Regions from separate parts of the Homo sapiens genome. Here region 2 is linked to region 1. The links come from fine-mapping of genetic effects on gene expression. Tissue or cell type: visceral fat. Region 1 holds a variant in brackets; the other region holds the start of a gene. All regions are shown on one strand. Distances are between the middles of the regions. Region 1 has its middle 5.0 kb from the start of XAF1. Region 2 holds the start of SLC13A5 (solute carrier family 13 member 5).

Region 1 (4,389 bases):
TAGAATTCCTTTCCAGGACACTGTGGCTACCCACTTGGCCGTTGTGGGGAGTTTCCGGCAGTCTCTTTGTGTCAGGCCTGTGGGTCAGGGGAGGGGGGTGAAGGTTGTCACAGGAAGCCAGTCTCTCAGACGTGAATTGGCCGGGCTGGCCATGTCACCTTTGCAGGAATCGGGGGGAAAGGGGAGCAGGAAGTCCTGGCTGGACTAGGACACAGGAATAATACACCCCTCCGTGCATTGTTTTGAAGATCAGAAGAGAAATTGTGTGAAAGCTGTACTTGTACAGCATGGAAGACAGGAAAGAATATTTAAAAAGGATTGTTTTAATAGTTTGGCTTTGAGAAGGGATCTTATTTAGGCTTTCTTCTTTTAAGGGATCACTATGCTAAGGAAGATGATGTAACGACAGAGATATTTCACTTCCCAGACAAAAATTATATGGTGCAATTGCACACACTTCTGTCGGTGGTGTCTTTAGAAGAATCCTGTGGTCAGAGTGGGCCTGAGTCCTGGGAGATGTGATCATATAGTCAGACTCCCCAAGCACAACGTGTTTGGATGGGAGTTCGTTTGTCAGACCACAGGAAATTGCATCAGATGACTAGTCTCTGGATGGCATTCAAGCCTGGGAATATCTGTGACTGTGTTTGGGGAAGACTCTAGGCCTGGCTGGGCAGCAAAGACGGGGAATGACCTGCTGGCTGCTGCTTAGTTGGCATATGAAGGGGAAGGAAGCTTGTCATTAAACTCATGGCAAGAAAGAGCAACTCCATGGCATTCTGTCTGTGTGGGGAGTGACCAGTACTTTTCTCTTCCTTTCTTTCTTTGAGAAGTCTCTTTTCACACATTCATAGTTTTGTTTTTGTTTTTTTCTTTTTCCTGGTTAAAACATCTCACCCACTTCCCCTGCCAACCCATTCCCGTCCAATCAGCAATCACAGTCCAAATGTCAAGGTCTCTTCCCTGATGTTTACAAGGGTGAGTGTTATGAGCCTTCTCCTCTTCCCAGATTACACATATTGGGTAAAGAGATGAAGTCTGTCTCTGTCACTCAGGCTGGAGTGCAGTGGTGATCATAGCTCACTGCAGCCTCGAACTCCCAGGTTCAAGCAATCCTCCTGCCTTCACACAGACTACAGGCACACACTACCATACCTAGCTAACTTTAAAAAAAATTGTAGAAATGGGGTCCCACTATGTTACCCAGGCTGGTCTTGAACTGGCCTCAAGTGGTCCTCCAACCTCGGTCTTCCAAGGTGCTGAGATTACAGAAATGTGCCGCTGCATCCAACCAATTTTTTAATAGCTTGATCATGGTATGGTCCCCTTGGTTGCTGCAAATCTCATGGAACTCAGGACAAATGACCATATATGTCAATTTTTTTGTTGTTTCTTTTTATGGTGGAGCGGGGGAGGTGAAAGAGAAAAAGTTTAGAGCTTCAGGGTCTTTTCACTCAGAATTTGGGGTGAACATACTCATATGGTTAAGTTGTGGTAATGAACAGCCACTCAGACTCTCATTTTAGGGAATAACTAGTGTTTTAATTTTTAAAAATGGAAACTTATGTTTCTTCCTACCCTGTCCTTGACATCACGTGGTCTTTCTTACAATGATTCACACTGGCTCCAAGATATTGTGTCCATCTCTTCTTCTTCTTCTTCTTCTTCTTCTTCTTTTTTTTTTTTTTTTTTTTTTTTTTTTTTTGAGAAGGAGTCTCGCTCTGTCGCCCGGGCTGGAGTGCAATGGTGCCATTTCGGCTCACTGCAACCTCCACCTCCCGGGTTCAAGCAATTCTCTGCCTCAGCCTCTTGAGTAGCTAGGATTACAGGCGTCCACCACCACATCAGGCTAATTTTTGTATTTTTAGTAGAAATGGGGTTTCACCATCTTGGCCAGGCTGGTCTTGAACTCCTGACCTCGTGATCCTTCTGCCTCAGCCCCCCAAAGTGCTAGGATTACAGGCATGAGCCACTGGGCCCGACCTGTCCATCTCTTCTTAATGTTCCATTTATAAGGTCATGCTGATACCTTAAAATTGGCCATAGTGAGAGTATTTAAACCGTGGAAATGGGCAAATGCTACAAATCGAGTATCTCCCCATCCCCAAGATCTGGCTGTTAAATACTTAGCAGCTCATCATTGTTTTTCTATCTCAGTAGCGACGGCTCCATGCAGAAGGCCAGGGTTATGTCTAAAAAGAAAAAGACAAAGTTAAAGAAAAGTTTACTGTTCCTTAATTATCTTGTTATCATGAAGATACAAAAATTCATTTGGAAGAGAGGTTGTAAGGATCAGCTTTTACATTGACATGTGAACTTATTTCCTCCAAAACAAAACGAATCAAAGGAAGGATATTAATTTGTTTGAGCAAATATGTCAGTATTTGTCAGGAAAAAAAAATTCAATGTCACGCCAAGTTGGCAGGATATTATTTTATAAAGCAGAGGGCATAGTCTGGGTTGAATTACT[C/TC]CCCTATTCAAGTTTGTTATTACAAATTGTATTCGTGGAGAACAGCCTACTATATTCACTACTTAATTTTGATTGCTGATTAATGTTTTTGATAGCTAAATAGCCTATATACACCTGGCCCAGGGGCTACAATAACAAACAAAATGAAGTCTCAGCTCCTAGTGAGCTTGAATAGCAAGATATAATCTCACCCATGCATAGATATGATCTATTTTAATTGGAGTAAGTGGAGTGGTCAGATCATATCACCTTCATGGAAAGGTAAGACATGAGGGAGTCTAAATGTGTGTGTGTGTGTGTGTGTGTGTGTGTGTGTTGAATGCTGGAGGTGAGGGTGGTATGAGATAGGAAGGACATTTGAGGCAGAAGGCAGAGTACAGGGGAGTGGAACAGCATATTACTTTTGGGTAGATATATACCAAATATTTCATATGAGTATGGAAGCAATGGGAATGGATGATCTATGCCTTTTCTTCAGCAAGCAGTAAGTTGGGGAGCTACTTCCAATTCCATATTTTTTTTATGGTGAAAAGATATACATATATTTAGAATTAGCCAGCTGGACTCAGTTTAGATGATCCCAATTTCGTTGGTAACGTCCAAAGCATCGTAATCAGGAGCCAGTTGAACATATGCCTTCTTCTCTCCATCAGGCTGATCAGGGTGTTGACTGCGGCCACATCAATGTCACAGAGCTTCTTCACGGCCTATTTGATCTGGTGCTTTTTGGCTTTAACATCCACAATGAACATGAGTGTGTTGCTGCCTTCTGTCTTCTTCATGGCAGACTCAGGGGTCAGCAGAAACTTGATGATAGCATAGTGATCAAGCTTGTTTCTCCCAGGGGCGCTCTTCTGAAGATATCTGGGCTGCCTCAGGAGTCACAGTGTCTTGGGCGGCCAGAAGGTGGGTGGATCTTCTTTTCTTGTGGATCTTCTTTTTTATGTGGCTGTGGACACCTTTCAACACTGCCTTTAAAGCCTTTGCTTTGGCTTCTGCTTTAGGAGGGGCAGGAGCTTCCTTCTTCGCTTTTGGCGCCATCTTGTGAACAGGGTCCAATTCTGTATTTTAATTGGAGTGCTTAGTATATTAACATTTAATATAATTGTCGATATGGTTGAATTTAGGTCTGCAACATTATTGTCATTTTTCCTGTATGCCTCTTGTGTTTTGTTCCCGTGTTCCTCTTTTCTTGCCTTCTTTTGGATTCTTTGAATATTTTTTTGAATTCCATTTTAATTTATGCTTGGGGATGCATCACCTTCCTAGCACATTGATGTATGATCACCTGCCAGGTAGCTCACCTGAGCTTTAGTGTCCAGAGTTTTTACTGAAGGTCTTTCCATACATTTTAATTTCCCTTCAGCCTAAAGCACTTTTTATTTTGTAGTGTAGGTCTTTTGGCAATGAATTCTTTTTGTTGGTGGTGGTGTTTTTTGTTTTGTTTTGTTTATTTGTTTGTTTGTTTTTGAGATGGAGTCTTACTCTGCCACAGAGGCTGGAGTACAATGGCATGATCTTGGATCACTACAACCGGCACCTCCTGGGTTCAAGTGATTCTCCTGCCTCGCCTCCTGAGTAGCTGAGATTACAGGCATCCACCACCGGGCCTGGCTAATATTTGTATTTTTAGTAGAGACAGGGTTTCACCAGGTTGACCAGGCTGGTCTCAAACTCCTGATCTCAGGTGATCTGCCCATCTCAGCCTCCCAAAGTGCTGGGATTACAGGAGTGAGCCACTGCACCCAGCTGGCAATGAATTCTTTTAGATTTCTTTTATCTGAAAATTCCTTTATTTTGCCCCAATTCTTGAAGGCTATTTTCATTGGAAGTAGAATTCTGGGTTGACAGTTTATTTTTTCTTTCAGTACATTACAAATGTTATTTGGCCTCCATAGTATCTGGTGAGAAGTACATGG
Region 2 (4,389 bases), 38 kb after region 1:
ATTCATGCATCCCGGAGAAAAAGGTTTGAGTGCACATCCTGGATTAGGCACTGAGAAAGGCACTAGCTGGACAGGTGGTGATGAATAAAACAGACAGTAAATAGAAATTACATCATAATAATGTGTCATATATTTTAAAATAGCTACAAGATATTTTAAATGTTCTCACCACAAAGAAATGACAAATATTTGGGCCAGACGCGGTGGCTCACGCCTGTAATCCCAGCACTTTGGGAGACCGAGGTGGGCGGATCACCTGAGGTCAGGAGTTCGAGACCAGCCTGGCTAACATGGTGAAACCCCATTTCTACTAAAAATGCAAAAAATTAGCCGGGCGTGGTGGTGCACACCTGTAATCCCAGCTACTTGGGAGGCTGAAGCAGGAGATTTGCTTGAACCTAGGTGGCAGAGGTTGCAGTGAGCCGAGATCGTGCCACTGCACTCCAGCCTGGGTGACAGGAGCACAACTCTGTCTCAAACAAACAAACAAAAAACAAAAACAAGAGAAATGATAAATATTCGAGTGATAAATATGCTCATTAGCCTGATTTGAACACACCACAATTATACACACATTGAAAAATCACATGGTACCCCGTAAATATAGACAATGATTTGTCAATTAAAAATGAAATAACACTTAAAAAATAAAAAAGTAAAAAGTAAAAATTACACCAATAAATATAAGAGGTACAAATTGTGCTAAGTGCCCTGGGGACACAGGAAAGGCGGGAAAACCCAGGGCTATATGCATGAGAGTTACAAAGGGAAAAGGACAGGAGGGAGGCAATTGCAGGAGGGGCTTGGGAGAATGCATGTCCTTGGGTGCAGGTCACAGGAAGGAACTCATGAGCTTGATTCAGGATGTGTTGAATTTTCGGGCCGAGACACGTCCAGTCTGCGGAAGGCTGGACATCTGGGACTCTGGCATCATGGCTGGGTTGAAGGCAGAGGATGGTAATCACTAAGGAGCCGGCTGTGGTTAGGCCACCAGCATGGATGAGACTCCCCAAAAGGAAGCTGCAGAATGAGAGGCAGGCAGAGGAGAGGAAAGAAGAAAATCACAGAGGTGGGGATGTCTTTGCATCCGTGTGTCTCCAGTGCCCAAAACAGGGCCTCGCGGAGAAGAGGTGCTCGGCACCTGTCTGTTGCCTGGCGGGCTGAATGAATACATGGGCGACTGTCTCAGTGTCGCCTTAGTTGTGTCCCTTCCTCTCTAGAGCTCCGTTTCCCTCTGACCTGGGTCGGGCGGGCAGCTGCGGCTGCTGAGGCTCGGTGGGGCCCCTCCAAGACGCGTGTCCGCATCTGCCCGCCGGGCGTCTGCGGGGTGCAGCGTCCACTGGAGCGCGACAGCCCCTGGGACAGAGGAGGACAGTGGCCTCGCTTCCCTGTGCGATCGCCCAGGAGCTCCGGGCCGGAGAGTGCGAGCGGGGAAAAGGGGTCCTGCACCTAGAGTGGGGCGGACGTGGCGAGGAAGCCAGGGGGGACCGGGAAGCGAGGCCCGCGGTGCGGAGGGCGCGGGGCGTGGGGGGACACCTCTCGGAGAGACACCGGAGGGGCGGAAGTAAGGAGATGGAAAGGAGAGGGAGATCGGGGAGATAGACCTGAGAGACCCAGAGGCCTGCAGAGAGTTTCATCCGGGACCCTTCAGAGCCCAGGAAAGAGCAGATGCGGACGCGGGAGGGCGCCTTACGCCAAAGCGGGCAGCACCAGTGACCAAAACACGCCCCGCTTGGCAGCCCCGGGACGCACCTCTGCCTCGGCAGCGCAGGAGAGGCTTGGACAGCGCGAGATGCTAGGGCCCAGGCTGCCCCTAGAGGGCTGGCCCGAAGCGTTGGAGTCCAAAGACGCCTCCCACCGCCGCCGGGTGGCAGAATTGGGGGCAGGCGCGTCCCACAGACCCCGAGGGGTGGCCCCGCCCCAGGGCCGCGGGGAGGCGCCCCCGTGCGGGGCGGAGTTGTCACCGCCCCCTCCCCAATCCCCGGGGACTGTGGCCCCTTCTTAAGCCCGCGGCGCCTCTAGCTGCCCCTCACTCGTCTCGCCCGCCAGTCTCCCTCCCGCGCGATGGCCTCGGCGCTGAGCTATGTCTCCAAGTTCAAGTCCTTCGTGATCTTGTTCGTCACCCCGCTCCTGCTGCTGCCACTCGTCATTCTGATGCCCGCCAAGGTCAGTTGCATCTCCAGGCAGCCCTTCGGACACCCGGCGTCCTGTGCCCACTAACGGGCACCGATCCCGGGAGCCCTGAGCTGGAGCGCACGGATTTCGCGGGGAGCACAGCTCTCCCGGGGCGCGCGCACTCAGGAGCTCCAGGTGCCGGATGGGAGGTGCCCTGTAAAGAATCTGAGGGGCATGGCGACCCCAGGGCGCACCACCCTTGGGGTTTACAGATCCCAGGGCGCAAGAGCCGTCCAGGCAAGCACGGAAACCTCGAAGTGAGCACAGATCTCAGCCACACAGATCCCAGCCTTAGGCTCAGCCCCTGGCTCCGAATCGAATCTCCCACAGTGCATAACCCTGTTTCCCCCCAAAATGCCACCTGCGCCAACAGGGAACCTGGGAGCTTGCCTTTCCCTCTCTCTCTCCTGTCTTTTCCCTTCGCCAAAGAAGACTTCAAGCTGTAGGTGGCTTCTGCCGTCAGGAGGGACCTACAGGAAAAAAATCATCACCCACGTGGATCCTGCGCTGTCTTTGCCACTCTCTGGCCCTTCCTTGGGCCTTAGTGTCTCTATCTATGATCCACATTCCTTCCAACCTGGAGAGCCACATCTGATTCATAATCCTGCTCCAGGCTGCAGGCAGGTTGGGGTTGGCCTGCTTTGCCTCCTGCCTGCTGGGGCTGTAGCAGGAGGCGGGACACATTCCCAGAGCTCGCGCCTTGGGTGGCAGGACCTGGAGTTGCAGGGAAGCTTCCTCCCAGGCCCTAGTCTCCTAATGCTTCTGTGAGGGAGAGAGAGAATGAATGGCCTTGGCCGCAGGGTGGGCGCAGGCTCCACTGGGCTGTGCACAGCCAGTTTGGCGGAGGCCCAAGCCCTTTGAAGCCTTTTGTGGCTGCTGGCTGCTCCTTCCTCGTTCCTTCTTTCAGCCCTTTCACTCTCAGCCCAGACAGGAAACCTCCAGCTCCCCACCTCCCCTCCCCAGGCAGGTTTGGGAAACAGAGGAGCTCTTCAGGGGATGCTCTGGGGGGGAGCTCTAGAGGAAGGGAGTGCACTGGGGTGTCAGGAAGCCAACCTGCAAGAGAACTGGACTTCCACCATTCTGTCATCTGTGTGACTTTAGCCAAGTGCCTGTGCTCTCTGGGCCTTGGTGTTCTCATCTGTACAATGGGGCTAGGTGGTTTGGTTCTGACACTTTAAGGCTTTGGGAATCAAAAGGGATTAACGTTAGTTCCTAGGATGGGGGAGGGGGAGACTGGGAGGAGCCCTTGGGTGGGCCTAGCACAGGCCCTGGATGGGTCAAGGACAGCAGATCCAACTGTGGAGGCTGTGCAGTTGCCACACCAACTGTGGGCAGCCACACTTCCTCTGTAGCAAGAAGTCTGGGGTTGTTATTGTCCAGGGGAAGTAGCCAGGCAGGAGAGCTGCGATTTCAGCTCTGCTGGTAGGGAGTGATGTTCCCTGGAATGATTATAGTAGCTTGGCTGACCTTCCTGCCACAGGAGACCCCACTCACACACACACACATACACACTCTCTCTCTCACACACACACACTCACAAACACACACAGACACACACACAAACACACAGACACACACAAAACACACGCACAAACACAAACACACACAAAAACACACGCACAAACACACACCCAAACACACAAACACAGACACACAAACACACACACAAACACACACACAAAACACACAAAAAACACAAACACACACATACACATACACACACACACACACACACACCCTGAACTGGAAACCCTAACTCAGTGTGTGTGTATGTGTGTGTATGTGTGTGTGTGTAAGAGAGAGAGAGAGAGAGATTAAGCTGTCCTTTGAGTGAGGACCAGGGAGGGGAAGAAGAGAACCCAGGGAGAGTCCTTCCAAAGGCTGCCTTCACGAGCTTTCCTTCTGGCGGGGTTGGGTGAGGACCCTGGACCTTGTCTTCTTGTTTTTTCCCTTTCTGCCTGTTTTGGTCACCCTGCCCCCACCCTCCATGGCCGCCCCATTGTGCAAGGAAACCCAGAGGGTACACAGCACGGGCAGGGCAGCTGGGAAGCTGGTGAGAAGCTGGGAGGACCTTGGCAGCCTGAGCAACACAGTCCTTGCCAGGAGGTGACTCCCAGGGCACGCCACCCTCTGCCAACACCCAGGCCTCTCTCCTCACCGACTGTCTCCAGTTTTCCTGTCTCCACCTGGATTCCCTCCTGGCCTCATCTCTGC

What was found. PIP is the estimated chance that this variant, and not a neighbour inherited with it, causes the effect. A credible set is the group of variants that fine-mapping cannot tell apart.
Region 2: SLC13A5 starts here. The variant in region 1 is the best candidate, but not a certain one, in a credible set for the expression of SLC13A5 in visceral fat (GTEx, PIP 0.85).

What each region holds. Positions count from the first base shown.
Region 1 is chr17:6,748,840-6,753,228 of GRCh38, reverse strand. It overlaps the pseudogene RPL23AP73. Among named protein-coding and RNA genes, the nearest start is that of XAF1, 5.0 kb to the left of the region's middle. RefSeq lists enhancers at 505-799, 825-1,119. The variant C/TC (reference allele first, on the strand shown) is at 2,471.
Region 2 is chr17:6,711,009-6,715,397 of GRCh38, reverse strand. SLC13A5 (solute carrier family 13 member 5) reads left to right here and starts at 2,029. Exons shown (of 12, transcript NM_177550.5): 1 at 2,029-2,166. The coding sequence starts at 2,065.